3 linked regions of the Homo sapiens genome follow. The protein of the gene in region 2 interacts with the protein of the main gene of each other region in a pairwise test. Each region holds a gene or a part of one and is shown on either strand. Other genes may lie near its edges.

The links.
Region 1: the proteins of CEP164 (region 2) and CCDC92 interact in binary tests that used the Homo sapiens proteins (3 or more experiments, as listed by UniProt).
Region 3: the proteins of CEP164 (region 2) and TTBK2 interact in binary tests that used the Homo sapiens proteins (3 or more experiments, as listed by UniProt).

The regions. Positions count from the first base shown.
Region 1 is NC_000012.12:123,935,126-123,944,944, forward strand, and holds the end of CCDC92 (coiled-coil domain-containing protein 92), read right to left. Parts: intron 9,616-9,819; exon of another isoform or gene 9,544-9,615; intron 9,240-9,543; 5' UTR 9,181-9,239; coding exon 9,147-9,180; intron 8,369-9,146; coding exon 8,222-8,368; intron 7,661-8,221; coding exon 7,619-7,660; intron 2,706-7,618; coding exon 1,933-2,705; 3' UTR 501-1,932; downstream 1-500. Other genes in the region: DNAH10 (dynein axonemal heavy chain 10), read left to right, coding at 210-356.
Region 2 is NC_000011.10:117,393,176-117,403,288, reverse strand, and holds part of CEP164 (centrosomal protein of 164 kDa), read right to left. Parts: intron 8,940-10,113; coding exon 8,796-8,939; intron 8,370-8,795; coding exon 8,286-8,369; intron 8,167-8,285; coding exon 8,098-8,166; intron 7,743-8,097; coding exon 7,567-7,742; intron 7,236-7,566; coding exon 7,109-7,235; intron 6,740-7,108; coding exon 6,678-6,739; intron 6,199-6,677; coding exon 5,976-6,198; intron 1-5,975. UniProt on the Homo sapiens protein: Plays a role in microtubule organization and/or maintenance for the formation of primary cilia (PC), a microtubule-based structure that protrudes from the surface of epithelial cells. Plays a critical role in G2/M checkpoint and nuclear divisions.
Region 3 is NC_000015.10:42,916,793-42,926,846, forward strand, and holds the start of TTBK2 (tau-tubulin kinase 2), read right to left. Parts: upstream 3,987-10,054; 5' UTR 3,646-3,986; exon of another isoform or gene 3,066-3,645; coding exon of another isoform or gene 2,967-3,065; intron 1-2,966.

The sequences.
Region 1 (9,819 bases), on a different chromosome or scaffold from region 2:
CAGGACCCACTTTTAACCAGGGTGTCAGTGTGAAGCCAGGTCCCCGTGAAGCTGGCGGAGGGTGGCCCTGAGCAGCCCCAGCCTTGTGCGTGTTCTCAGGTGCAGTCTTGCACAGGGGCCCCTGCCTGTCAAGACTTACACTGCACCTCTGCCTTTATCCCTCTGCACCCTCTCTCCGTGGGGGCATCTCACCTGCCTTTCCCTTGCAGAATACTTTCCGGACCCCCGTCTACACCACCTCCATGAGAAGGAACGCCATGGGAGTCGGCTTGGTTTTTGAAGCTGATCTCTTTACCACGAGGCACATTTCTCACTGGGTGCTGCAAGGAGTATGCCTCACCCTGAATTCTGATTAACCTTTGGGTGAAGAAAACTGCTTAATGAATTCGGAGCCTGGGGTTGTCAGAGTGATCGGGTCTGCTGTCATTTCTTGGGGCCTCTCAAGAGGCAGGAGGGGGACTGACACTGATTTTTCATTTGAAATCAGCCACTTAAATCTCTTTCCATACAAATTAACCTGAATGGTTTTGTTTTTAATACTACTTTTTAAAAGGAATTTATATAATCAAAAAGTAAATATTGGAGAGTATTTTAAGATGTGTGGAGTTTTCTTTTCCTTCTCAGAGAAAACACTTGATTAGGCAAAAGTGCCTGGCATACATAGCATTGGCACAAGTGAGAATCCTAATGTAATTTCCAAAGGTGTGTTTTCGATGATCCAGGTCTGTTTCAGCAGATGCTCCTTTTTGGCAAGAAGGGCTGATGATGTCGGGCACAGAGCAGAAGTGACCAGTCACCTGGAGCCACTTCTCCCCCTTCCAGAACTCTCTGGCCCTAGCTTCTTTGGCTCTGACCTGCTACGGCGACTGTGAAGTTGTTGAGCTTAGTGTTTAGTTCCTGCATGAGCTTCTACCCCCAGCCTGCCTGGGTCTGTGTGGGGTCAGGTAAGGACACAGAACCTCCAGGACCAGTGGTCACTGGGCACCCCTTCCCTCTGTGCACCATGAGGCTGGCCTGGAGCCCTGGCTGGCCACCTGGAGGTGAGGGGTGGCTTCACTCCATGAGGGAGGAGAGGGGCTAGCACGGGCAGCACAGTGGGCAGGGGCCATCAGAGGCAAAAGCAGCTTCCCACAGAAGCTCAGGAGCGCAGCACATTCTAAGGACTAGCTCTGGGCCGGGAGGAGGCCGGAGTCGCTTCTGGGACCTGTGATTGCTCTCCCTCCTGCAGTCTCCTAGCCCTCCTTCAGGTGTTTGTTTAATAAAAGACACAAAACAGAAGGAAGGCAGGTTTAGAAAATAAAGTTTGTTGGGATCTTAAACATTTTGGATAAAACTAACAAAAAAATATGAACACACATTCAGGTTGTGGTGCTATGAGGAGTAGCGTCATCTTATTTAGTTCCTTGAGATACACGCACGGCTGCTCGGTGATCGGTGCCGCCCTGGGAAAGGTTGGTCAGGAGGTGACAGGGGTCTCCAGGAGGAGCTCGGGAGGTGACAAGGGTCTCCAGGAGGGAGCAGGGGCTGCTCGGCCAGGCTGCCCTGGAGCTTGAGGATAAGGTCAAGGTTGGTATGTGTTGCTCCGACTTGAGAATGAATTAGGTGTGTGACTGTGTGGCATCGTGAACATCAGTAGTGACGCAGCCGTGGCCTGGGCTTTGCCTGCAGCGCACTTAGGTTACACGGAGCGGGATCAGAAGCAAGCGATTCGGCACACAGGCGTTTGGCCACAGCAATTAGGAAATACATATTCTGCGGCAGGGACACGATCATATTTTGGTGTGAAGAAGAGGGCAAGAGAAGCAGAAGGAGAATGGGTCGGTAGGTGTGAAAAGTGTTTGGCATGCATGGGATTAAACAGAAAAGGTGTGGCTGAGATTTCCCAGTGGTGCTCACAGTGCATGGACAGCGCGGGGTGGGGCACGGCGGGCTTCACACAGTTCTGTCCGTCCCTGAGTGCTTCCTCACCACCTTGCCTCCGTTCACCTGGTCGACCGCCAGGGTCTTCACCTCGGGCTGGGCCTGCGGCGGGGTGGCGTGGTGGATCCGATGTGCCACCCCGACGTGGGCCTTGTGCGGCTTTTCGCGGGCCGGGCTGTGCTGCTCGCCGCTTCGGTCGGAGGCGATGGGGGGGATGACGAGGGGCCTCTCTTTGATGAGGTGGACCTCGGCGGACTCCCTAGCCAGCAGAAATGGGGTGGGGTCGGGCATAGCATCCACTGGTTCCCGCAAAAGGAGTTTCCTGCTCTCTGCCCCGAATCTGTAGACCTCTTCAAATTCCGGGTGCAAGGGGGCTGAGAGGCTCTTTTTCATGCGGCGGCGAGGCGTTTCGGGTAGCTTGTCTTTGGGGGGCGCTGGCTTGTAGCTGGCCAGCACGGGGCTCCCTGACGGGCTGGCATCTGAGGTCCCGCTGGAGCTCATGAGCTTCTTCTTGGCGGCGTGCAGCTGGGAGGTCAGGTAGGCGATGGTGCTGGCCCGCTGCTCCAGCTCGCTAGACAGCAGGGTCAGCTTGTGACTCTTGGCCTTCAGCTCCTCCAGGTACTTCTTCTCTCGCTCCTTGATGGTGTTCTCCAGCACTGTGATCATCGCGTTTTTCTGCTCCAGTTCTTTCAACAACTCAGCATTTTCGTTCTCTTTCACTTTCAGTTGGGCTTCCAGCTCTTCACATCTTTTCTTTAATTCACTGCTTTTAGAAGTCCCGTCTCCTACAAGAATAAGCCGAGGAAGCAGGTGAAGAACTCATTAGACTGAGGCCGAGTGGTGAGGCCTATGGGGCAGGCGGACCTGTCTGGTGGGGGCCCTGTCTAGGCTGTGGGGGCCATGCAGAAGGCAGGGCTGTGGGGGCTCTGGAAAGACCCCTCCCCTCCCCGAGGTGGGGAGATCGGGGCATCTCAGAGGCCCTTTCCGGCTCTTAGTTCTCTGGCCTACTGCATAAAAGAATGTCTCTGAACCTTAAAGATGCTGAACTTAAAACAGGCAATTGCAGAGTATCAGACCTCAGCAAACACTTAGGATTCAACTGGCCGCAAATCCCTCTGTCTGCTCAGATGGCATTTATGGAATGCCTGCTACATTCAAAGTACTGTTTTGAAACTCAAATGTAAAAAGAATTATCCATGTCTATTGAATTAAAATTCTGATGTTTAGAGGAGAAGAGGTGTGGGGCTGTCACCTTTGCTCTGCCGCTGGCCGCCTCTCTCACCCCCCTACCCCCGTCTCTCTCACACACACACACACACAGACTCTTTCCCACTTCCTGCTCAGAGAGTGAGCTGTCTCGCCTCTGTGGCTCTTACCCTTGGTCCCTCCCTGCCCCTGCCCTAACACTTCGGGCCTCTGCCTCCTTTTGCTGTCCCTGGGTGCCTGCCCTCACCCAGTCCTTCAGCAAACACCAGCCACCTCCTTCTCCTGCTCTTCTGGTGACCTGCAGTCCCTGGTCACCTCACATAGCACCCTTGGCTCTAAACCCTGGGTCACCATCCTACTCCTCCTAACGCTGGCTGGCTGGCCATCCTCCTTGCCTGGCCCCTGGGAAGTTCTTTCTAGACTCTTCCTTGCTGGTCTGGAATTCAACTTGAGCATCAGCTCCCGATTCAGTGTCTCCTGAGCACCACTTCTCCAAGTGAGTGTCCGTCAGACACACCCTCAAGTCCAGATAGCTGCTCTGCTTCCCACATCTTGACTCTCCCAGGGAAACTGGATGCAGTCGCCATCCCTGGCCTCCCCTCCCTGACTGTGCCTTTCTGCTGGCTGCTCAGTGCTGCCCCCTCCCTGCTCCTCCAGCCGGCCTTGGTCCCACCTCCTCTCTGGTCTTCGTTTCAGCCCATCCTGTATTTAGGAAGCTTGGTCACCCCCTAAATATTCTTGTCCTCTGTTCAAAATGGTTCCTCACTGCCTAATAAAACCCAAACTGCCAGATGCCTTCCAGTTCCTCAATCTGTCCTGAATGTTATCTGCTCCCACATAAATCAAAGCTTCCATCACTCTCCCCAAGCCACCACCTCTTGTTCTGTCTCTATTGTACCCTCTGTCCTTGCCCTAACTCCAGACCTGCACGCCCAGTTTCCCTGTACCAACTCCACCACCCAGGGCCTGCCTAGGCACTGGACGCCACTGGACGTCTTTCCCGGGCTTCTGTCTGTCTTGCTTTGAATTTTCCCACCTGCCTGAGCTAGCAGCAGCTCTGCAGCATGTCCCGCCGCCAGACTCTGAGCTTTTGAGGGCCCACAGCTGACTGGACTGGTCTTGTGCAGGACACTTGCATGTTACAAGCTCGCTGCAGGTGATGGGCGCTCCTCGACTTAGCATGGGGTCATGTCCCGAAAAATCCAATGTAAGTTGAAAATACCGTAAGTCAAAAGTGTGTTTTCGATATTTTCAGCTTACCATGGGTTTATCTGGACATATCCATGGTAAGTCGAGGAGTGTACTGAATGGGTATTGCCCCATGCAGTTGAAAAATTTTAAGTTGAACCATTGCAAGTTTCTAGTTTTAAAAACCATGTGTCTGTGTGTGTATGTGCAGGTATAATGTCAGCAAATGACCTCCCTAAAAAGGATGCATGCAGTACTACCTTTCATGAGGTTTCTTCTTTTGCCAAAAGGAAAATAGATCCTAAAACACAGTTTCAGAGGTAGAGAGAGGGACAGAGACACACACACGACTCTGTAGACACTGTAAGACCCAGGAGCCCAGCCACCTGGGCTGAACCCCTGCAACCTGAAATGCTGACCTGGGCACGGCATTGGGCCTGGTACCCGCTGTCCTTCCCCCAGGGCCTGTGGGACAACAACCCATGCCTGTCGCAGGGCCTTTGCTTTCAGCCCACACTCGGGTGGACAGTGGGCCTTGGGCTCCTTCCGAGGAAGGGCTGCAACCTCAGACCTTCAACCACATCCCTGGCCTGCTGTGAGCATCCTGGGATTTTTCTTCCCCCAGGCAGTGCTGCAAAAGGCTGATGGACGTTTGGAACATTCAGGAACAAGGCTGTCCCTGGGCTTTGCTCATGTCCTGTGAGGGGCAGCCCACAAAGGCAGAGGGCCCTGGTGGTCGGACTGGGGACTTGGATTTGTGGGGCACCTGTCAGATGAAGATGCAGGTTCAGAGATGTCAAAGAACCTGCCCAAGGCCACACAGCCCCTCCGAGTCAGAGCAGAGGCCCAAATCTGGGGCTCATTAAGCATCACTCTGGTTCTTTTCGCCACAGCATCCTGAGAGAAGCTCCTCCTGGATAGACATCCTCCTCATCATCCTTCCTTGAGAGTCATCTAGCTGTGCTGCCTCCTCCTCCAGGGTGCAGCCTTGGCTCCGGGCTGATGTTTACCGGCCCCGACTTGAGTGGGCCGTCCTGTGGGAAGGAGCTGGTACGACTGCTCCTCCATCCCCAGCTCTGGAGAGCTGCTTCAGTGACTGTCCTTCCCAGGAATCAGCACCTCCTGTTTTGCCAATTTCTTGCTCTTTATAGAAAGCTCCACTCCACCTCCTCCTCTGTACGTACCCCCTTTCTGGAAATTTCAGTCTTCCCATGAAAGCTTGGTGCACACTGAGCTGACAGCAGCCAACTGCTGCTGGTCTCCAAACGCTGCACTGCTGAGCCTGCCCGAGCGTCAGGGCACTGCAACGCTTCTAAACCTGCGCACTCCCTGGGCCCGCCCAGACTTCTGGGGTCACAGCCCCCAGGGGAGGGAAGCCAAGAGTCTATGCTGTACCCTGGGTCCCGAAACTGCTTGGAATTGGGCAGTTTTGGGTGCACTAATGTAAAACAATGATTTTCACCACTGGGAGGGGAGACGCCCCGACTGGAACCACCTGAGAGGCTTTTGAAACTGCCTCCCCTAAGACACAGCCCTTGCTGTGAGACCCTGCTGCTGCTGGGAGTACTACATCAGGTGGGTGGGTGGGTGGGCAGGTGGCCTTGGGACCTCAGGTTGAGAACCGTGACTGGAGAGGCCACAGGGCAAAACTATGCTGCTTCAGATTAGCCTGGGCCAGGAGAGGACAGGGAGCGAGGACGCCCTGGCTTCCATGACACGGGTAGCTCCTTTCCCAAGGCTTCAGTGCTGGCAGGTGTGGACGCTGGAGGTCCCTAGTGTCAGGCTGAAATCCTGTTCCTCTGCATTCCCACAGGCCCAGCTCCCAGTCCCAGGGCTTCGGGGGAGGTCCCTGGTATCCCTCCACAGGGAGACTTCTGAGGACAGGCTCCCATTCCACCACCCCAAGAAGCCCACGGCGCCTTCCCTACCACACGCAGACAAAAAGATGTCTGGGCTCCTGGGTGGCGCACTCAGGAGGCTGTAATATGAGCAATGCAAATGGAAAAAAATCAGTGCTCGGTAATCCACTAAGGCTTGGTGGAAATGGTCTGTGTCTTTTACAAGGAACTGGACACTCTCATGAATAGTAACTGCCATTGTGAGGCCTGTTTAGAAAAAGGCATTGTGGGGAATGGAGAAGTTCTTCAAAGTTTCTTGAAACCATAAAGAGCTTGTCATTTCCTTGCTCTATGTATATCTCTATATATGTTCCAGTGTAGCTGCTCCGCCTTGCCCCGGCACGCCTGCGCAGGGCTGAGCGAGCCCTGGACCATAGTGCATGCTCTTCCTTATTTGGAAACTCTCCTGACCCTCTCATGACTAGCTTCCTCTTTTCTTTGTCCTCTTTCCCTTTTGCCTATTTAGGAAAGTTTCAAGCTGTTAGCCAATCGGGTCAAGCTTAGAATGTGAGGTCCCATTCCAGTCAATGGAAACTGGACACAGTCATAGGGCAATTGCATCAGGTTATGAAGATTATAAATGTCCTCGTCTCCTTTGTTTGAGTGTGCTCTCGTGGTAAGACTGCTGGCGAGTTGCACCCTTTCTGCAGAAAGTAAACTAGCCTTGCTGAGCCATCCATTGCCTTCCCGACGTGATAAACCCGTTTCCAACAGGTGTCTCTGCACAAACATGGATTCAGCACTTTCCAAACACCCACCCTGTTTTAGGGAGCAGGCTCTTTGCAGCAGGCACAGAGGGCCCTGGGAAGGCCTGGGTTTCTGTCTCTTCTCTGGCGGCCAGCAGGCAGCTGCCCTTTGGGGTTTCCTGAGGTCCTGGAGGATTCTGGTTTGGGGAGGGTTCTGGGGCTGTAGTCCAGAGAAAGCCCCAGATCCTCAGGGAGCTGTCTAGTAATGTGACCACTCGCCCGCCAGCATTTAGCAAGCTGCTGCTCTGTGCCAGGCCCATGCTAGGCGGCAGCGACACGGAGGAGCGGGGGCGGTTCTGCCCAATGCTGCTGCTGCTGTTACTCCTCCTTTTGGGTTTAACTCACGTCTATTTTTATGTCCTGATTACACAAGGAACACATGTTCATTGTAGGAAAATCAGAAAAACATATAATAGGCATTCCAAATATATGTGTCATTCAAAAGAAAACAAAATCACTCATCCCCCTGCCCACTAATAACCACTTGCAACACGGAGGGATCCAAACATCCTTCTCATCTTCTCTTAGAGAGCTCAGGCCACACGCATAACTCTTCCCAGCAAGAGCATTTTCTCCTAAGTGTGTGACTAGTGAAAACGGCACCAACACGTACCACAAAGGGAAACCTACTGTCATTTACTTCTGGGGAGGAGTTCTTACCTGTCTGTTCCGAACTTTTGACTGTCAGCTCATATGTTAAATCTAAAAGGGAAATGTTACACATTAATTCTTTTACTGTACATTTCAAAATCTTCATCAGCTTTGAAAATGCAAAACCGATTCCCACGATTAGCCAGCGAGTCCTACCCAGACAGAGCAGGGTTTGGCAGCAGGAGAGGTGAGCATGAGAGCAGCAGAAAACATCTGCGGCCACTGTGCTCCCTGGGGTCAGAGGGCACCCTCTGTTCCCCCAAACTCCCTTCCCCATTCCCCCACAGCATATCCCAACCATCCAAACCAAACAATCCAGCAGCTGGCTCTATGTATCACACAGGCTATATCTTGGTTATCAGTTCCAAAACACATTGGAGATTCTAACCATTGTATTTTAATCTCTTAAGTCCTCAGTATGCCAAGAAAAGGCTTTGCAGCTTTATGCTTAGTGCATCTTGATTATGCAATGAGGATGATATAAGGCATTCAGATGGACTCCTGCAACGATGATGGGAGCTGGGGGCAGGGCAGGCCTAGCACATTCTGACGCTGGGCTCTGCCGTGCCCCATAGCCGCCCCCCGCCTGCCCGGGCCTGCTCCCCGATGTACCTGTGCAGTGCTGCTGCAGCCGCCTGATCTCGGAGTGCAGCCCCTTGAGCGTGCTGGCATGCTCCCGCTGAAGGAACAGGAGGTTCTTCTGTGCGCTGTGCAGCTGGTTCTCCAGGTTTGTGGCTGCCATGCTGACATCCAGAGGACCTGTGGGTAACACAGACCCTGGCTGCGGTGCCTGAAGAGGGTCCCAGGGCTGCCTGCCCTCCTTGGCTCTGGGTGCAGAGGGGTGTGCGCCTCCCAGGAGAGAGCAGAAGGAAACCACGGCTCCTGAAGGGCAGGGTGTGGGGGCACCAGGGCTACATTCCCATCACTGCAGGGAGGCCCCAGGCCAGGGACGGCAGCCTCTGCTTCCCGAACGCCTTGGGGTGTGCCCTAGCACCTAGCACGATGCCTGGCACATGAATGAGTGAGGCCCACTCCAGAGTACAAAGTCATTTCCCTTTACTCATGAGGAAACAGATCAAGAGAGGCAGATTCGCGAGCCTGGGGTCACACAGCCAGTGAGGTATGGAGCAGGGATTCTAATCCAGGGACCCTTGGTTCCAAATCCTGTCCTCTCCACGCACCACCTCACCCCAACAGACTGTGACTGACCAAATCACGCCCAAAAGATTTCCCTGACCAGGAAGCACTGACAGCTTCCTCATGGGAAAAGCTGGCACCTGGGAAATGGGCCAAACATTTCCTCTAAATGGCATCTGGAGCCAGCCAAAGTAGGAGGGAGAGATGGGCTGAATTCCAGAGGGAAGCCCCCTGCACTTCACAGCACTGAGAGGAGCCACAGATCCTTCTTGGGAAGGTCTGAGAACGTATCTCATGGGGCCAGGGGGTGGTGCAGGTGTCTGGAGTCTGTCCCCAATGCTTGGCCCCTCCCAGCCCCAGCTTCCAGCATCTGATGCTCACTCAGGGCCCCAGACTCTACCTTCATCGTAACTCGAGAAATGTGGTGAAGTCATGGGTCTTTCTGGAAAAGCTACCAGAGTAATTCAAGACGCTTGTACAGCACTGAAAAATACTGAGGATGAAATGTGAGTTATTTGCTTATAAATTATTATTGTAAATACAGAACCTCAGAATGCATTTTCCCTAATTTGCTATTCCAGAGAACCCTCCGTAAAGGAGGTACAACTTCTCAATGGCTCCCAGGACGCAGCCCATTTGTAGGATGCCACAGTGGAACCGTTTTGGAGACACTGACACACCCAGGCTGTCACTGCTTCAGACGACACCAATTGCTCATCAATTATCTGTACGACCAGTGACATGCATGCACACTAGCTCTGGAGCTAGGACGAGTTCATAACGAACTTCAGACATACACTTTCATCACACGAAAACACTTCCTGGGCGCTGCTCCGGTGGAAAGCCACAGACTCCACTCCGAGGGCAACCTGAGAACGCAGAGAAGGAAATAAAACACGACGGAGCTCACGAAGGGGAATGAACAATGATACATCCTAAAAAGGACCAAGAAAAAGAGAAACAAGAGGCCCTTTCAGTTGGGGACAAAAACTGGCAGGAGAGGGCAGTGGCCCCAGGACACGGCAAGTACAGTCTCGGGGGGCACCTCACCACGGGCAGTGATTGGGCAGAGC
Region 2 (10,113 bases):
ACATGCCAAATTGTAAAGACCATCGATGCTATGAAGAAACTGCATCAACTAATGGGCAAAATAACCAGCTAGCATCATAATGACAGGATCAAATTCACACATAACAATATTAGCCTTGAATGTAAACAGGCTAAACGCCCCAATTAAAAGACACAGACTGGCAAACTGCATAAACAGTCAAGACCCACCAGTGTGCTGTATTCAGGAGACCCACCTCGTGTGCAAAGACACACATAGGCTCAAAATAAAGGGATGGAGGAATAGCTACCAAGTAAATGGAAAGCAAAAAGAGGCAGGGGTTGCAATCCTAGTCTCTGATAAAACAGACTTTAAACCAACAAAGATTAAAAAAGACAAAGAAGGGCATTACATAACGGTAAAGGGAGAAGAGCTAACTATCCAAAATATATATGCACCCAGGAGCACCCAGATGCATAAAGCAAGTTGTTAGAGACCTACAAAGAGACTTAGACTCCCACACCCCACTGCCAATATTAGACAGATCAACGAGACAGAAAATTGACAAGGATATTCAGGACTTGAACTCAGCTCTGGACCAAGTGGACCTAACAGATGTCCACAGAACTCTCCACTCCAAATCAATGGAATATACATTCTTCTTAGCACCACATAGTGCTTATTCTAAAACTGACCACATAATTGGAAGTAAAACACTCTTCAGTAAATGCAAAAGAACGGAAATCATAACAAACAGTCTCTCAGACCACAGTGCAATCAAATTGGAACTCAAGATTAAGAAACTCACTCAAGGCTGGGTGTGGTGGCTCAGGGCTGTAATCCCAACACTTTGGGAGGCCGAGCCAGGAGGATCATGAGGTCAGGAGCTCGAGACCAGCCTGAAAAACATGGTGAAACCCCGCCTCTACTAAAAATACAAAAATTAACCAGGCATGGTGGCACACACCTGTAATCCCAGCTACTCAGGAGGCTGAAGCAGGAGAATCGCTTGAATCTGGGAGGCAGAGTTTGCGTGAGCCAAGATCATGCCACTGCACTCCAGCCTGGGTGACAGAGCAAGACTCTGTCTCAAAAAAAAAAAAAAGACAAGAAAAGAAAAGAAACAAGTAAGTTCTTTGAAACCAATGAGAACAAAGACACAATGTACCAGAATCTCTGGGACACAGCTAAAGCAGGGTTTAGAGGGAAACTTACAGCACTAAATGCCCACAGGAGAAAGCAGGAAAGATCTAAAATCGACACCCTAACACCACAATTAAAAGAAGTAGAGAAGCAAGAAGAAACAAATTCAAAAGTTAGCAGAAGACAAGAAATAACTAAGATCAGAGCAGAATTAAAGGAGATAGAGACACAAAAAACCCTTTAAAAAAATCAATCAATCCAGGAGCTGGTTCTTTGAAAAGATTAGCAAAATAGATAGACTGCTATCCAGACTAATAAAGAAGAAAAAATAATCAAATAGACACAATAAAAAATAATAAATGGAATATTACCACTGATCCCACAGAAATACAAACTACCATCAGAGAATACTATACACACTTGTATGCAAATAAACTAGAAAATCTAGAAGAAATGGATAAATTCCTGGACACATATACCCTCCCAAGACTAAACCAGAAAGAAGTTGAATCCCTGAATTGACCAATAACAAGTTCTGAAATTGAGGCAGTAATTAAAAGCCTACAAATCAAAAAAAGCCCAGGACCAGACAGATTTAAAGCCGAATTCTACCAGAGGTACAAAGAGGAGTTGGTACCATTCCTTCTGAAACTACTCCAAACAATAGAAAAAGGACTCCTCCCTAACTCATTTTATGAAGCCAGCATCATCCTGATACCAAAACCTGGCAGAGACACAACAAAAAAAGAAAATTTCAGGCCAATATCCCTGATGAACATCAATGTGAAAATTCTCAATAAAATACTGAATCTAGCAGCACATCAAAAAGCTTATCCACCACAATCAAGTCGGCTTCATCCCTGGGATGCAAGGCTGGTTCAACATACGTAAATCAATAAACACAATCCATCACATAAACAGAACTAATGACAAAAATCACATGATTATCTCAACAGATGCAGAAAAGGCCTTCGATAAAATTTGACACCCCTTCATGCTAAAAACTTTGAATAAACTAGGTATTGAGGGAACGTATCTCAAAATAATAAGAGCTATTTATGACAAACCCACAGCCAATATCATACTGAATGGACAAAAACTGGAAGCATTCCCTTTGAAAACCGGCACAAGACAAGGATATCCTCTCTCACCACTCCTATTCAACACAGTATTGGAAGTTCTGGCCAGGGCAATCAGGCAAGAGAAAGAAACAAAGGGTATTCAAATAGGAAGAGAGGAAGTCAAATGGTTTCTGTTTGCAGATGACATGACTATATATTTAGAAAACCCCATCATCTCAACCCCAAATCTCCTTAAGCTGATCAGCAACTTCAGCAAAGTCTCAGGATACAAAATCAATGTGCAAAAATTATAAGCATTCCTATACACCAATAATAGGCAAACGGAGAGCCAAAGCATGAGTGAACTCCCATTCACAGTTGCTACAAAGAGAATAAAATACCTAGGAATCCAACTTACAAGGGATGTGAAGGACCTCTTCAAGGGGAACTACAAACCACTGCTCAAGGAAGTAAGAGAGGACAAAAACAAATGGAAAAACATTCCATGCTCATGGATACGAAGAATCAATATTGTGAAAATGACCATACTGCCCAAAGTAATTTACAGATTCAATGCTATCCCCATCAAGCTACCATTGACTTTCTTCACAGAATTAGAAAAAACTACTTCAACTTTCATATGGAACCAAAAAAGAGCCTGTATAGCCAAGACAATCCTAAGCAAAAAGAACAAAGCTGGAGGCATCATACTACCTGACTTCAAATGATACTACAAGGCTACAGTAACCAAAACAGCATGGTACTGGTACCAAAACAGATATATAAGCCAATAGAACAGAACAGAGGCCTCAGAAATAGCGCCACACATCTACAACCATTTGATCTTTGACAAACCTGACAAAAACAAGAAATGGGGAAAGGATTCCCTATTTAATAAATGATGTTGTGAAAACTGACTAGCCATATGCAGAAAACTGAAACTGGACCCCTTCCTTACACCTTATACAAAAATTAATTCGAGATGGATTAAAGACTTAAATGTAAGACCTAAAACCATAAAAACTCTAGAAGGAAACCTAGGCAATACCATTCAGGATATAGGCATGGACAAAGACTTCATGACTACACACCAAAAGCAATGGCAACAAAAGCCAAAATTGACAAATGAGATCTAATTAAACTAAAGAGCTTCTGCACAGCAAAAGAAACTACCATCAGAGTGAACAGGCAACCTACAGAATGGGAGAAAATTTTTGCAATCTACCCATCTGACAAAGGGCTAATATCCAGAATCTACAAAGAACTTAAACAAATTTACAAGAAAAAAACAAACAACCTCATCAAAAAGTGGGCAAAGGATATGAACAGACACTTCTCAAAAGAAGACATTTACGCAGCCAACAAACACATAAAAAAAAAGCTCATCATCACTGGTCATTAGAGAACTGCAAATCAAAACCACAATGAGATACCATCTCACATTGGTTAGAATGGCAATCATTAAATAGTCAGGAAACAACAGGTGCTGGGAGAGGATGTGGAGAAATAGGAATGCTTTTGCACTGTTGGTGTAAGCATAAATTAGTTCAACCACTGTGGAAGACAGTGTGGTGATGCCTCAAGGATCTAGAACCAGAAATACCATTTGACCCAGCAATTCCATTACTGGGTATATACCCAAAGGATTATAAACCATTCTATTATAAAGACACATGCACACATATGTTTATTGCAGCACTGTTCACAATAGCAAAGACTTGGAACCAACCCAAATGCCCATCAATGATAGACTGGATAAAGAAAATGTGGCACATATACACCATGGAATACTATGCAGCCATAAAAAAGGATGAGTTCATGTCCTTTGTAGGGACATGGATGAAGCTGGAAACTATCATTCTCAGCAAACTAACACAGGAACAGAAAATCAAACACTGCATGTTCTCACTCATAAGTGGGAGTTGAACAATGAGAACACATGGAAACAGGGAAGGAAACATCACACACCGGGGCCTGTCAGGGTTGGGGGCTAGGGGAGGGATAGCATTAGGAGAAATACCTAATGCAGATGACCGGTTGTTGGGTGCAGCAAACCACCATGACACGTATATACCTATGTAACAAACCTGCATGGTCTGCACATGTATCCCAGAACTTAAAGTATAATTAAAAAATAAAAAGAAAGAAAAGAAAAACCCATTTTTTGAGGAGAAATTCAAGCTAGCTGCAAAAATTTTCATATGTAACAAGGAGCAGAATCTCCAAGACAATGGGGAAAATATCTCCAGGACATGTCATAGGTCTTCATGGGCAGCCCCTCCCATCACAGACCCAGAGGCCTAGGAGGAAAAAATGGTTTCGTGGGCCAGGCCCAGGGTCCCCATGCTGTGTGCAGCCTAGGGACTTGGTGCCCTGCATCCCAGCCACTCCAGCCATTGCTAAAAGGGGGCAAGGTACAGCTTGGCCCATGGTTTCAGAGGATGCAAGCCCCATACCTTGGCAACTTCCATGTGGTGTTGAGCCTGCGGCTGCACAGAAGTCAAGAACTAAGGTCTGGGAACCTCCGCCTAGATTTCAGAAGATGTATGGAAACACCTAGATGCCCAGAAAAAAGTCTGCTACAGGGGTGGGGCCCTCATGGAGAACTTCTGCTAGGGCAGTTCAGAAGGGACATGTGGGGTCAGAGCCCCCACACAAAGTCCCTACTGGGGCACTGCCTAATAGAGCTGTGAGAAGAGGGCCACCGTCCTCCAGACCCCCAGAATGGTAGATCCGTCAATAGCTTGCACTATGCACCTCAAAAAGCCGCAGATACTCAATGCCAGCCTCGGAAGGCAGCTGGGAAGGGTTTGCCTTCTGGCTGCATTGCTGTACCCTGCAAAGCCACAGGGGCGGAGCTGCCCAAGACAATGAGAACCTACCTCTTGCATCAGCGTAACCTGGATGTGAGACATGGAGTCAAAGGAGATCATTTTGGAGCTTTAAAATTTGACTGCCCCACTGGATTTCAGACTTGCATGGGCCCTGTAACCCCTTTGTTTTGGCCAATTTCTCCCATTTGGAATGGCTGTATTTACCCAATGCCTGTATCCCCACTGTATCTAGAAAGTCAGTAGCTTGTTTTTTATTTTACAGGCTCATAGGCAGAAGGGACTTGCCTTGTCTCAGATGAGACTCTGGACTGTGGACTTTTGGGTTAATGCTGAAATGAGTTAAGACTTTGAGGACTGTTGGGAAGGCATGATTGGTTTTGAAATGTGAGGACATGAGATATGGAGGGGCAAGGGGTGGAATGATATGGTTTGGCTCTGTGTCCCCACCAAAATCTCATCTTGAATTGTACTCCCATAATTTCCACGTGTTGTGGGAGGGACCTGGTGGGAGATAATTTGAATCACAGGGGCCATTTCCCCCATACTGTTCTCGTGATAGTGAATAAGTCTCCCGAGATCCTGATGGGTTTATGATGGGTTTCTGCTTTTGCTTGTTCCTCATTTTCTCTTGCTGCCACCATGTAAGAAGTGCCTTTCGCCTCCTGCCATGATTCTGAGGCCTCCCCAGCCATGTGGAACTGTAAGTTCAATTTTCTTTTTCTTCCCAGTTTCAGGTATGTCTTTATCAGCAGCATGAAAATGGACTAATAGTGTTATCATGAGGTTTAAATTATTTACTACTAGAAAAGGTGTTTGCATACTATGCATTGCCAAGTAAATATAAGTGACCCAGGGCCAAGGTGGCCACTCTCATGGAGTCCCGAGAATGACCAACTGAGGGGGAGCCCAAAGGACTGTTTTGCTGACTCCCCCCGCCTCCCCCACACAGGGCTGGCAGGCCCTTCCCAAAGCTCCTGACCTTCTCCAGGTTCTTGCGCATATCTTCCAGGGCCTTGATGCCTGGTGGGTCTTTGGCCACCTCCTGCGCACTGGCCAGCTCATGGCGCCAATGCTGCTGGGCAGCTTTCAGAGCTGTCTGCCGCCTCCGCATGGAGCGTGTCTGCTGCACAAGGAACTCCTTGGCACTACGGAGGGCTACCCCCTCAGCAGAGAGGAGGTGCCAGACATTGTGGGAGGACAGGCTGGAGCAGGAGAGTTGAAGAAGGAAAACAGAAGCCTCTAAGAACTCTGCTCTGGGTCACACAGCCCCTTCCCCAGCAGATGCCAACCCTGAGCACAGACCAGAGCTGCTGGGCTAGGGCTGGGCACTGTGAGTGCAGGGATGCCACTGTTCAATACCCACAGTGCGCAGTGCCTGGGACTGACAGTGCCCCCACCCTGACTCTGAGAGGGATCAGGCCTGGGGCCTCCAGATAGATGACCAAACACTTCCAGCAATCTGCTTCTCCACTAGAGGAGAATGCCATGTCAAAGGTCACAGTGGGCAGTTTCTTGGCTTGCCAGAGAAGATTCCTTAATCCTCCGGAGCCTTCCCCATGAACTAAGCCCCACTGGTGATCACCGTCTCCTCACTTCAGCTCACCCCAGCTCTATGATGCAGGTACTCACTTACCCCTTCATGGTACCCTAACCTCAAATAAGACAGGCTATGGGAACTCACCTGTCCAAGTATAAGTCCTCCTTGCTCTGGGAGAGAGAAGAAGACACCTCTTTGGTCTGGTTCTAGGGACACATGGTAGAAAAGTCCACTGAGTGTAGCAAAAGCAGACACCCTGCAGGTTCAAGACCCCAAAGCCCCTCCCAGTGGTCTAGACAAGGAAATGGCTCTCTAGCTGCCAGGCACTGTTTACTTATAGATATCATCTGACTGGTGGAGACGACTGGTAGCTGGGAATAAGAACAGACCAGGTCCCATAGAGAACAGAGCCAGCCCTTCCTGATGCCTTGGCCCACCTTATACTCCTCCCCTCCTGAGGCTCCACCCCTCCTGATGAGCTGTCCCCTCTGGAAGTACTCCCCTGATGCCCAGCCCCTCCCAATGCCCCACACCATCCTGGTGCCCCAGCCCCCAGGCCCCAGCCCCCAGCTCACTGTTCCAAGGGATTTCCTCAGGTCCTCAATATGGAGATCTGGCTCAAAATGTGGGGAAGCATTATTTTCCTCAACTGTCACTTCTCTCAACAGGTGCTGCTTCTTTTGAGCTTCAGCCTCCAGGCTGCTGTGGAAGGAAAGATGAGTGAGAGGCAGGGCAGCGGCTGGCGATGGGGGGGAGGGGTGAAGTGGGTCAGAACCATCTCCACCCCCTCACTCCCATCCGTCAAAGTCCCTGAGGAAGGGCTCAGGCACGAACAATAGCACCAGAGATCCCCTGCTTTTCACAGAATCTTAACAACCCCAACTCCCTACAAAATGTAGCCACAGGCTCTTCTGCCTAGCTCCCAAGCTGGGACTCCACCTCTCCCTATTAACTGGGCCATGACACAAGCAGCAGAGGTCAGAGGGCAGGCAGGAGGCAGCCAGCAGGGCTAAGTGCAGGGTGCCCACGCCACCTGAAGTGTTTCTGCAGTTGCTGGCTCTGAGCCTGCAGCAGATCCACTTGGGACTCCAGCTTCAGCTTGCGGGCCTGCAGCTCATCAAGAATTTCTCGGAGCTGCTGGTTTGACTGCAACAGGTGGGTGTGCTCCTTCTGTGCCTCCTCCAGCTGCTGATGGGTGGCTGTGGCTTCCTAGGGGCAAAAGGAAAGATAGAAGCACCCAGAGACAGCACAGAGAGAAGCCAGGGAGCAGACAGCACGAGAGGGTAGGGAAGCCAAAGGAGGACAGGCTGGGAATGAATTCAGAGCCACTGAAGTCACCACCTCTGAGGTCAAGAGGTCTGCAGGCTCCTGTCCTACCACAGTCCCACTCCCTTGAGGTTCCCAAGTGGGGTCCACAGAGTGGCACTATTTGTGGAATACTGGCCAACAGAGTTTGGAACCCCAGTGCCCTGGACAGATCAGATGAACAAAATGTGGGGAACAGGGAGAAGAAAGACAGGAAATGGAGGAAGAACAGGAGGGAGGACAAAACAGGGAGACAAACCTCACTCTTCAGAGCAACCTGCCTCTGCACATCAAGCAGCTGCTGCTTCTCCCTCCGGGCGGTCTCCTCCTTGCAGGGAAGAGACAGGATTTTCTGGCTGACTGCAGACCCCAGGTCTGAGGGGCAGAGCCTGCCCTCTGCTAGAGAAGCTATGACTCTGAGGTCAAGGACTCCTGCAGATCCCTCACCTGGACCTCCAGCAGAGCCAATCTGGCCTTGACATCTTTAGCTCTGGTTTCAAGGTCCAACTCTAAATCCTGGAGCTTCCTTTCCTGCCCAGAAAGGGAAACACATAAGCATAGAAAGAGTGTAAGGCATTAGCTGAGGGGCAGGAGGGGGTTCCAGAACCCACCATGCCACACCACAACCTCCACTCTGGGCTCAGGCTTCCTCGCTGTGTGCCCCTGCAGCCTCCCAGGAAGGCTCCACACCTTGTTTACTTCCTGCTGGGGCAAGGAGACGCAAAGGTGCCAACCCCAATGCCTTACAGGGGCTGACCTCTAGTTCTAATCCTGAGTGTGTTCCCTGGCCCAGAAAACAAAGTAACAAGGATGCCCCAGCTTGGAGATGGCCAGTGAGAGACTCTCACTCCAGAAGCTGTCAGGCTGCATCCTGCTGGGGCCATGCGTCTGCTCCCAGCACCTTCCTACTGTGCATGGAGGGGTCACAGTGGGCTCACCCTGCCCCAGGCCCCTCACCTGCTCCCTGTGCCGGCGCCGCAAGTCCTCAAGACGCTTGTGTTGCTCCTGCCTCACAGTCTCCAGTTCTCGTTCATGGGCCCTCTGCAGGCGCTCCAGCTCTCCGGTCAGGTGCCCCAGAAGCTCAGCCCGCTGCTTCCTCTCCTGCAAGGAGGGTGGGCCCACCGGTGGGAAGCTGCGGCAGCCCCTTCTACCACAAAAATCACAGCTCCCCTAGCCCTGCAGCCTTGCATCAGTAAGATCAGGGACACCATCGGCTCCCTAAAGCCAGCTCTTGGAGAAGAGGAGGGTTACAAGCACAGCACCGGCCCTGGCCCCAGCAAGCCTGCAGCCCTCTAGAGCTGAAGCAGAGGCTGGTCAGACACCACGACAGATTCCCTTTCTGGCTCTCCCTATGGCTCCACCATATACAACTTTTCCTCTGTAAGGAATGAGAGGTCACTGATAAATTATCACTATTCTTCAGCAAGGTCATAATTGGTTGGGGGAAGGGATATGGCAAATTTCATCATGGGACTGCTATTTCTGCCCTGGGAAAGATCCTAGAAAGAGTCTGGGATACTGGTTCCAGTTACTGGAGCAGTAGTCTTAACACCCTGCAGGGTCCCAGCTGTGGGCTATAGTCAGCCACCCTCTACCCACCCATTGTTCACCCTCAATGTGAGCAAGGCAGGCCAGCTTGGGTAAACTCAAGTCGCTGAACTTTCCTACCTTAAGACCAAAGGCTTAAAATGGGGAGAATATCAGTATTACTTGGCTCTTGCCAGTCTATTTCTTGGTGTCCCAAGATGTTGAGGAACCCTGGTGACACAGCATTGCAGTGAGGAAACTGAAGGCTTTGGAGTCAGATGGCCTGGGCTTGAATCCTAGCTCTTCTACTTATTGGCTGGGTGTGATCTTGGGAAGCTACTTAAACTCTCCAAGTCTCAGTGCCCTCATCTTTAAAATGGAGACAATGATAGTAGATCCTTCCTAAGGCTGGTGTGAGGACTAAATGAGTTAAAATAGATAAAGAGCTCAGAACAGTTCTTGGCACACAGTACAAGCTCAATGTATGGGGGTTCTTTTTACTATCAGAAGAAAGTACAGCCTGCCTGATAAAAGAGGAATTGCCCCCCATTAGGTGGAGGTTTTTCTCATGTTTTAATAAAAAAGGCAAAAAACATCATCGTGGCAGGGTACCAGGAAGGAAAACCTCCCACAATCCCTGACCACAGTTTATCCCCTTCCTCTGCCCCACAGCCAGGTGGGAAGGACCCCGGGGTGTGTGTGCATGTGCGTGCATGTGTGTGTGCATGTGTGTGTGCATGTGCGTGCA
Region 3 (10,054 bases), on a different chromosome or scaffold from region 2:
GAACAAGATGATGGAAACTGCAACTCCATTTTTTTAAAGGCAACTACTTTGAAACTGCAGAAAGAAAAAGACAAATATAAAAATATTAATTATAAAACCATTTTGGTAAAAACATATATAATGGCAAATATGTTTTCTAATTCAAACATTTTAAAATGCTGATTCTTGTTTTCAATAAAGATGTTAATTCTCTGTTTAAAAAAATAATGATTCTGAAAACATGGTTAAATCTCGATAGCTTACCAAAGGAAGCTAAGAAGCTACTTAGTAACTTCCACTCTTTAGGAGGCACTATTACATCCCAGATTCTTTTCAAAGGACACTTAAGTTTTTCACATTGGGAAGCTTTACCCTAACTGAAGTGAAAGCAAATTCCTATATACAATAAAAAACAGCTATAAACACTCCAAAACACCAAGGATTATAGAGACAAAGGTTAAAAAAAAAATCACAGGAAAAAAAATCCAAAATGTTCACAAAAGTTTGTAAGTACTATATGTTCACTTAAGCATCAAGAATAAAGTCACATGACATTAATGAAAATATACTAAGAAGGCTATTTAAAAATAACCAACTGAAAAGAAGAAACTATCTAGCAAAATTGACATTCATATTATGTTATAATATAATTTCAATCTGTATTATAAACCTATAATCAAGGATCACCAGACTTTAATGAGGCAGTTTTGAGTAGTAATATGTGTTGTCCTTATGCTCAAAATTTAGTTCTAAAAAACTGAATTTTTTCATATGACCTTAAAGGCTCTTTCACCAAATATGTACGATATTTAACTTGAAAGCTTTCAGTACTTTCGGCATAAAAGGTTCTATCCACTGAAGCCTGGGGAAAAAACTTCCACTACCACACATTGTTTACAATATGCTGGATGACAAAAAAAAAAAAGACTAGGAAATAAAACTAAATAAAATGTATTTAATTTCAAAAATCCATAAATATTGAAGGTATATTGCAATATTACTAATCAAACAGAAATAGCTCCAGCTACATTTTGAGTGTCTCTCAAAAACCTCAATAAGAACAAAAAATGAATACATGACTAGAGTAATTTTGAGTAGCATACCCTCAAATTGAAAACACTGTTTGCTATATATTTGTAAAAGAATATTTCCTATAGGATTTTTTTTTAAGTGTGGAAAGAAGTAAGCTATAGCTATATTTTCCATAATTCTCAAAGACTTTTTATTTTACTGATCAACACAGTCCTTACTAGATCAATAATGATCCTAAACACTTTCCCTTGTCATAGATTTGTATTTATTTATTTATTTATTTATTTCAAGAGATGGGGTCTTGCTCTGTCACCCAGCCTGGAGTGCAGTGGAGCGATCACAGATCACAGCAGCCTCAACCTCCGATCCACCCCCTCAGTCTCCCTAGTAGCTGGAACCACAGGTGTGAGCCACCATGCCCGGCTAAATTTTTGTTTGTTTTTTGTAGAGACAGGATCTCCCTGTGTTACTTAGGCTGGTCTCAAACTCCTGGGCTCAAGCGATCCTCCTGCCTTGGCCTCCCAAAGTGCTGGGATTACAGGCATGAGGTTTTTTTTTTTAAAGCAGCAAACATTTATTATCTCACACAGTTTCTCAGGATTCGAATCTGAAAGTGTCTTAGGTAGGTGGTTCTGGCTCAGAGTCTCTCATGAGTTGCAATCAAGCAGTCATCTGGATATGTTACTTTTTAAAGTTATAAAGCATATAAAAAAGTGGCTGCCCCCCACCAAAGTGAAATTTAAATTCCATGATCACAGCTAACTCGGATCTGTAATATTCATTTACTTTGAAAAACCAATAACTTATCATTGCCACATTTTTAGTGCACTTTTTAGAAGTAAAATACGCTCGAAAATGGTCTAAATTATGCAAACTTCCCTTCTAGTATTACATTTAAAGATACTTGAAGCCCCACATAATTGAGTTCAATTTGCTAAAGCAAATGAGGTCTAACCTCTTGAAGATTTCCTGAAGTATTAAAATAATCAACACTTAAAATCAAAAGAAGATACAACAATCTAAAGTCATATATAATGCAATAGAGAATTTACTAAATTATGTATTAACCATAGTACAAGATAATGAGCAAGATATATTATTCTCAGCCCCCTAACCAATGTACAAATTTGCATCAACTTGATATTATATATTAAATTAATGAAGTTATGGACTTTAATTTCTTCTGTGTCTAAAACTGGAAGAGGGAAGAAAGCATTTCCTAACATTCTATCATAAAAGAAAAATGTTAAGAGAAACTTTCCTTTAAAACCATGCTTCATATGTCCCCTTCGGTGTCTTGATAAAATGTTATCATACAGGAAAACATAAGCTTCTAAATCAAAGATTTCCTTCAATGTTTTCAATTTGCATAGATCACAATATAACACACACATTATTTGAAACATTTTTTGACTTCAGACAAATGCCTCAAGATTAATCATATTAAGCTATATTTGTCATCATTACTGCTTCTTTATTTAAAAAAAAAAAGGAAATAAAGCAAGCAATACATAGCATTCAATTCCCTTGATAAGTTAAAATCATTTCCCCCTTCTATCCCCAAATGAACTTTATTCTATTCCATTTAGCCAAAGGTACACAGCCAACACATCTTTGTGTTATACTGTGGCAAATCAGGGTTTAGATACCAATGCAACTATTATCAATGGCTCAGAACCAAACATTGTTAACAAAACACACTGAGTGGATCCTCCCTCTGCGTGTGTGTCTACATGTGCCCATTCATAACATGACCCTCCTACACACACAGAAACTCAATTTCTACTGAATTACAAAACATCTTCACATTATTAGAAGTGTATAATAAAACTGTCCTCTTTAATGTTCAAAGAAAGAATAATTTCTAAAGCGATGAGAGAGAAGAGTTAATACCAGGATTGCTGCTACCCATCAACTTTAATTCAAAGCAAAGTACAACTCAATGTCATTTTTACCTCTACTGTAGCCTCGACGGATACAAAATTAACTTCGCTGTAGAATAAAGTATCCTGGCATCCCAATGGATTATTTACTTCTCCGATTTGACAGAACATATACGTGAGTCTTTTGTCCCTCCCACAGCATCCCAGGGTGTCAACATCATCTCTGCCACAGCAAATGACGAGCAAATCCCTCAGATCATTACTTCAGCACCCTAAGTACAAGAAAGTCGCGGCCTTCACTGTCGTTACAACACAGCAAACAGATTCAGTAGTCCCATGTTCCTTTCCATGATAGTTGGGGAGGCGGGGTGGGAAATAAGCGCTCAGATTTCCTAGGAATCCTTCGTGTTCGGTGCTGGTACCAGAAGTGGCATGGGTACAAGTGATATGTGGGTCACCCACAGAGAGAGACGCAGAACGAAGCTTCGTGACCCTCCAAGTTCAGTGAAGACACCCAAAGCCTGGGGCAAAACGAGGCGGCAGCCTTCGGGGAAATCGGGCAGAACCAGAACGATCTCCGAGATGGAGAGTGACGGGGTCTGGCACGAGCCCCGGGCTTGCAGCGAACTGAAAGTCCCCGGTACCCCTCCCCTCCTCAGCAGGCTCGGTCACTCGGCGAGGGGTGCGGCCGGAGGAGGGGGTCGAGACTGGGGGAGGGCGGCGCCCTGGGGGGTCGGGGGGTGTGTCCTACCTGGGCCGTGGCGGACGCAGGGGTTTCTGGAGGAGGGCTCTGGTCCAGCTCAGGACCGGGACCGGCGGGGGTTAACCCTCGGCAGGCGGGACCGCCACTGCCTGCCCATCCCCCACCGCCGACTGCGGCGGGACCCGAGCGCGGCTTCCAGGGCCGGCCGGCTGGGTAGTCCCCTGGGGTACCGTCCGCGTTTACTGGCGGCGGCGGCGGCGGCTGCTGCTGCTGTTACTGCTGCTGCCGGCTCCCCCAAGCCGCTGCTCTTGTGCCAGCACCTGCTCCCCCTCCTGCCGCCGCCGCCGCCTCGTCCCCACCGCTCCCATCGCCGCTGCGGCGACTACTGCAGAGCCCGCTGACCCGACCCGACGTTATTCTCCCCCCTCGTAACCCGACACAGCCTAGCCCACCTGCCCTGCCAGCGCGCACGCCCACCTCTCCGCTACAGGTGCTGATTGGAGAGTGCGTTCCGAACTCGCAGCGTCGGTTGGCTAGTCCCATTGCCTATCACGAAGGGGGCGGAGAGTCGGGCAGAAACCGTCTCCGCCCCCCACCGGAGAATTGCCGCTATCTTCAGGTTTGCCTGAGAGGGCGAGTTACCGGGAAAGGAGCATCACAATGGCAGCGCGCATGCGCCTAGGAATTCTGGGCCTCGTAGTTCCAGCCATAGCCGCAACTCCCCGCCTGTCCCGAGGAGAGAAGTAGGGCTTCCGAGACAAGTAGTTTGCGCACATAGGTGTTCTCCTAGCGTGACAGTTAAATTGGTTATAGAGGGATGGTTGGGACCCCATGGTTGGGCTTTTCGGAATAAAATCGGAAATGCTTTGTCACGATACGAAATTACACACTGAGGCAGTCGCGATGAAGGGCCCAAATCGTGAGGCCCTGCAAGCCTTAAGGATCCATCCTCTTCCTCAGCATCAGCGCTGACAGCATCCCGCAAATTGGCGCCGTCCCCAGAACCGCCTAACGTGAAGCTAATCATCTTTGGGGGACTGGGGAAGGGCCTTAGGTGTGACGAGGAAAGGAGATGGGCACTTCCATAAACGAATGTCAACTTGGAGACCGGAGTGTCCTTACGGTTTCACAACCCAAGAACAAGATTTCATTCCCTTTGTGAAACACCACCAGCTAAAGACTCAATGGCCAGCCCCGGTGCACACCAGTATGCGATGCTGAGCAAGTGTATGCGGGAGGTGCTCAAAGACTTTCAAAGAAAAGCGAGGAGGGCGGAGCAAGGACGCTGTGCAGGATGCGTTTCTATTTAGTGTTGTGTCAGTCGCTTTGGCGAAGGAAAACCTTAAGATTAAGCACCTCTCCCATCTTTGCCCACCAGTGTACAGTAGAGAAAACACATGAAAAACGCTAAACAGCTTTCCTAAGGCTATAAACTAATCAGTGGCAAAACCAAAACTCAGGTCTCTCATACGCCCCACATCTAATGTCCTTTCTACTTAAGAATCACAATGATCCCCAGGGTTCTGCCATGAATGGAAAGAATGTAATGAATTATGAACTTCATTTTTACTTTAAATCCTTTTCTTCACTCAAGTGACATTGTCATTAAAGCTGATTAAGAATATAGAAAGGTAAATGACTAATCCTATATTCAATCTTGGAACTGTTCCTATAGAATCTGTTTCTTCTTGCTCAGGAAGTGCCACAGCCTCTTGCCATTCTTTTTAAAAACAGCAGGCATCTCTACTCTCTGTCATGTCCAGATCCTTGGATTGAAAGCAGGACAAAATGTACATTAAAGGCAAGTGATGATGCAGCTCATCTTGTTCTATGCAAACATAAAGATGTTGCCAAATTGTTTTTTATTTCTACTGATTAAAACCACACGTTACTTTTTCTATTACTATGTCTAATAGAGTACTTCATTCATTTCAGAGTATTGACCAATCACATAATTTGAATAAGAAAACATTAGGGTTTCTGTAAATATTTTTCTTTAAAATTAAAGAAGTTTATAGGGGCCAGGCACAGTGGCTAATGCCTGCAATCCCAGCACTTTGAGAGGCTGATGTGGGAGGATCACTTCAGTCCAGGAGTTCAAGACCAAACTGGGCAATGTAAGGAGACATAAGGAGACTCCTTCTGCACACACACACACACACACACAAAATGATCACGGAAGCATGGATTTAAAATTTTTTTTAATTAGCCGGGCATGGTGGCATGCCCCTGTAGTCTCAGCTATTCGGGAGGCTGAGGCAGGAGGATCGGTTGAGCCCAGGAGTTCAAGACCAGCCTGGGCAACATAACAAGACCTTGTCTCTACACACAAAAAATTTTTAGTTAGCCAGCCCTGTCTCTACTAAAAATACAAAAATTAGCCAGGTGTGGTGGCATGCACCTGTAGTCCCAGCCACTTGGGAGGCTGAGGCAGGAGGATTGCTTGAGCCCTGGATGTCAAGGCTGCAGTGAGCTATTATCGCATCACTGCACTCCAGTCTGGGCAACAGAGATACCCTGTCTTTAAAAAAGAAAAAAAAAAAGTTTCTAGGGAAAAAATGTCCAGATTCATTGAAATTAGGCTTAGCAATAAAAGCCTCCCCTTTTCTCCAGTCTTTTCCATTTTAGAATTATTGAGCTGTCCCCAGAGATACTCTTTCAGTCAGGCTAAATGTCAATGTAATATGTTATTCAAGAGCTGGTACTGGAGTTTAGGAATCCCCTTTGAGTTATAGATATAGATAGATCTCAAGTATATATATAAAACTCAAATATATATGCATGTATCTCTTTTAAGAAATAAACTGAGCATAGTGGCTCACACTTGTAATCCCAGCACTTTGGGAGGCCAAGGCAGGAGGATCTGTTGAGCCCTGGAGTTGGAGACCAGCCCTAGCAACATAGTGAGACTCTGTCTCTACAAAAAATATATATTTTTAATTAGCTGGCCCCTGTAGTCCCAGCTACCCAGGAGGCTGAGGTGGGAGGATTGCTTGAGCCCAGGAGGTCGAGGCTGCAGTGAGCTATGATTGCATCACTGCACTCCAGCCTGGGTGACAACGCAAGACTCTGTCTCTAATACATAAATGTGGTAGCCAGACTTCCAGATGGCCCCCAATGATCCCTACCTCACTTACTCTCATTCTTATTTATTCCTTTCCATACTGAATTGGACTGACCTGTGTAACCAATAGGATTTTCCAGAAATTATGGTGTGGGAATATCAAGGCCAGGTTATAACAGACATTGTAGCTTCTGCCTTATGTGTTCTTGGATCACTTATTTAGGGAGAAGCCAGTTGTCTTCTCCTGAAGATACTCTAGCAGTTCCATGCAGTGTTCCCCTGGCAAGGAACTGAAGCATCACATCAATAATCAGCACCAGTTTGCCGTCTATGTTAGTGAGCCATTCTTAGAAATGAATCCTCCAGCCCCAGTCAAGCCTTCAGATGACTGAAAGCCCAGCTGGCTTCTTAACCACCACCTTGTGAGACACTCCAAGCCAGAACTACCCAGCTAAGCCACTTCTAAAATGTGTTACTATATCACAGAAACTATGTGATATAGTAAATATTTACTATTGCTTTAAGCATTAATTTTTGGGATAATTGGTCATGCAGCAAGAGATAACGAATACAGTAAGACTTGGGAAAATAAGAGAGAGGAATAACTCAAGTCTAAGGATGTGTCCCTGGATAAGTCTAAAGGAATCAGACAGACTCTAGGATCAGTCTTACAGCATATTCAAAGATACAATGTCCAAAGTTCAGACATTAAAAAGTCCCCACACAGGACATAAAGCCCCTTTTAACACAGCTTCTTTTCTCCTAGCATGAAATAAATAACATATTGAAGAATCTCTTTCTTCTTTTCCTTTCCTTCCATTTATGTCCTCTTCTGCCTATCTTTAGGTACCACTTTGTAACCTTCTTCCCATAATCCAAACAGAAAAGGATCTAGATGTGTCATTTACATCACATTGTTATTAGGACAGCACCACAGTGTGAATCAGTGTGCAACTCAAGGAAAAGAGACCTCTGCCCTTTTCTCTTTCTATCTCTCTCTTTAGAAACAAATCTCAGAGTTGCACATGAGAAGTGGGTAAATATATGTTATGTTAATTATATCTCAATAAATCTCTTTTTTAAACTCATTACGCAGTGCTTTGAAACATGAAACTCAATAGTGAACTGGTGCTCAAGCATTTCTGCAAACCAGCAAGCAGCCCTGTTTTTCAGTTTTTCAGCAAATAAGTTTCTATTTGAATGTTACTTAATCCACAAACAAAATCCCCATAAACAAGTTTTTTTGTTTTTTTCTGAGACAGAGGCTTGCTGTGTCACCCAGGCTGGAGTGCAGTGGGCGCAATCTCGGCTCACTGCAAGCTCTGCCTCCCGGGTCCATGCCATTCTCCTGCCTCAGCCTCCCGAGTAGCTGGGACTACAGGCACCCGCCACCATGCCCGGCTAATTTTTTAATATTTTTAGTAGCGATGGGGTTTCACCGTGTTAGCCAGGATGGTCTCAATCTCCTGACCTCATGATCCGCCTGCCTTGGCCTCCCAAAGTGCTGGGATTACAAGCGTAAGCCACCACACCCGGCCCCCATAAACAAGTTTTTATAGAGCCTACTAATGCCATCTACTCTGATAGGCACTGGGAAAGCAAATTTGAATAAATTCAGTCCTGTCCCTCAGGGTTTCACAATGTAATGATTAGCAAACATGCAAATCTTATTAGAATACATTGTAATAACTGCTATAAGAGAGGTATACAGCATATAAAGATACTCAAAGGCCAAATCCTTGGGGTTCTCTGAGAGCTTCATTTCTTTAAGTCAGTATCAGCTGCATTCTGATTTCGACAGAAAGGCATTCACATCAAATATATTCACTACCTCAAGTGTTTGTGTTTTTGAAACTTTGTTCTTTTTTTTTTTTTTTTTTAGTGAAAATTTTACTTTTAAGTAAAAGACTTGATTTTTTTTTTTTTGAGATGGAGTCTCACCCTGTCACCCAGGCTGGAGGGCAGTGGCACGATCTTGGCTCACTGCAACCTCCACCTCCCAGGTTCAAGCAGTTCTCCCGCCTTAGCCTCCCAAGTAGCTGGGATTACAGTCACCTGCCAGCACGCCAGAATAATTTTTGTATTTTTCGTAAAGACGGGGTTTCACCGTGTTGGCCAGGTTGGTCTTGAACTCCTGACCTCAAGTGATCCATCCTCCTCAGCCTCTCAAAGTGCTGGGATTACAGGCGTGAGCCATTGCGCCCAGCCTTGATTTATTTTCTTTTTTTTTTTTAAACAGAGTCTTGCTCTGTCACTCAGGCTGGAGTGCAATGGCACCATCTTGGCTCACTGCAAGCTCCACCTCCCGGGTTCAAGCGATTCTCCTGCCTCAGCCTCCCAAGTAGCTGGGACCACAGGTATGTGCCACCACACCTGGCTAATTTTTGTATTTTTAGTAGAGACAGGGTTTCGCTATGTTGGCCAGGCTGGTCTCGAACTCCTGATCTCGTGATCCGTCTGCCTCAGCCTCCCAAAGTGCTGGGATTACAGGCATGAGCCACTGCACCAGGCCCTGATTTCTAATTAAAGAAATTTCAAGCAAAAAGAATTAGGTAAGAGAAAACGGTGTTGAGCGGGCAAGGCAAAAAACTCTCAATTTGGGAGATATGAGTTTATCGCCTTTTAACCTATTGATATCAATTTGTGTTTAATGATGATGATTAAAATAGACCGTAATATCAGAAAAGATTGACATTGATTAGACCTAGTAAAGTGAGAAAAGAAACTAAAAGAGTTTACATTCACAAAGTAATTCTAATTGTGGTTATTTCTTGATCTGCTTCCTGTTTAGGCCTTTTATGAAACACAGAATAATTATATCATTAACTGTTAACTTTTTGCAGGTTTTATTAGAAGAGTGAATTATAGCTACACATATTTGCTCATATTTTTGTTGCAAGGTCATATATATATATAATTTTTTTTTTTCAGAGATGGAGTTTTGCTCTTGTTGGCCAAGCTGGAGTGCAATGGTGCGATCTCAGCTCACCACAACCTCCGCCTCCCGGGTTCAAGTGATTCTCCGGCCTCAGCCTCCCTAGTAGCTGGGATTACAGGTGGCTGCCAGCACACCCAGCTAATTTTTTTTGTATTTTTAGTAGAGACGGGGTTTCATCATGTTAACCAGGCTGGTCTCGAACTCCTGACCTCAGGTGATCCGCTGGCCTCGGCCTCCCAAAGTGCTGGGATTACAGGTGTGAGCCACTGCGCCCGGCCCCATTAATATATTATTGTTGTATACTCATATTTTTAAAATGAGAAAGTAGTGGGGTGATGTTATGATTGTGCCTGTGACAGTCTGGAAAAAGTTCAGTGACTTTCAGTCTAGTTCAGGAACCTGCCACTCCACTCCAAACACTGGACAGCTTTCTGTGATTTTCAGGCTCTTCTGGC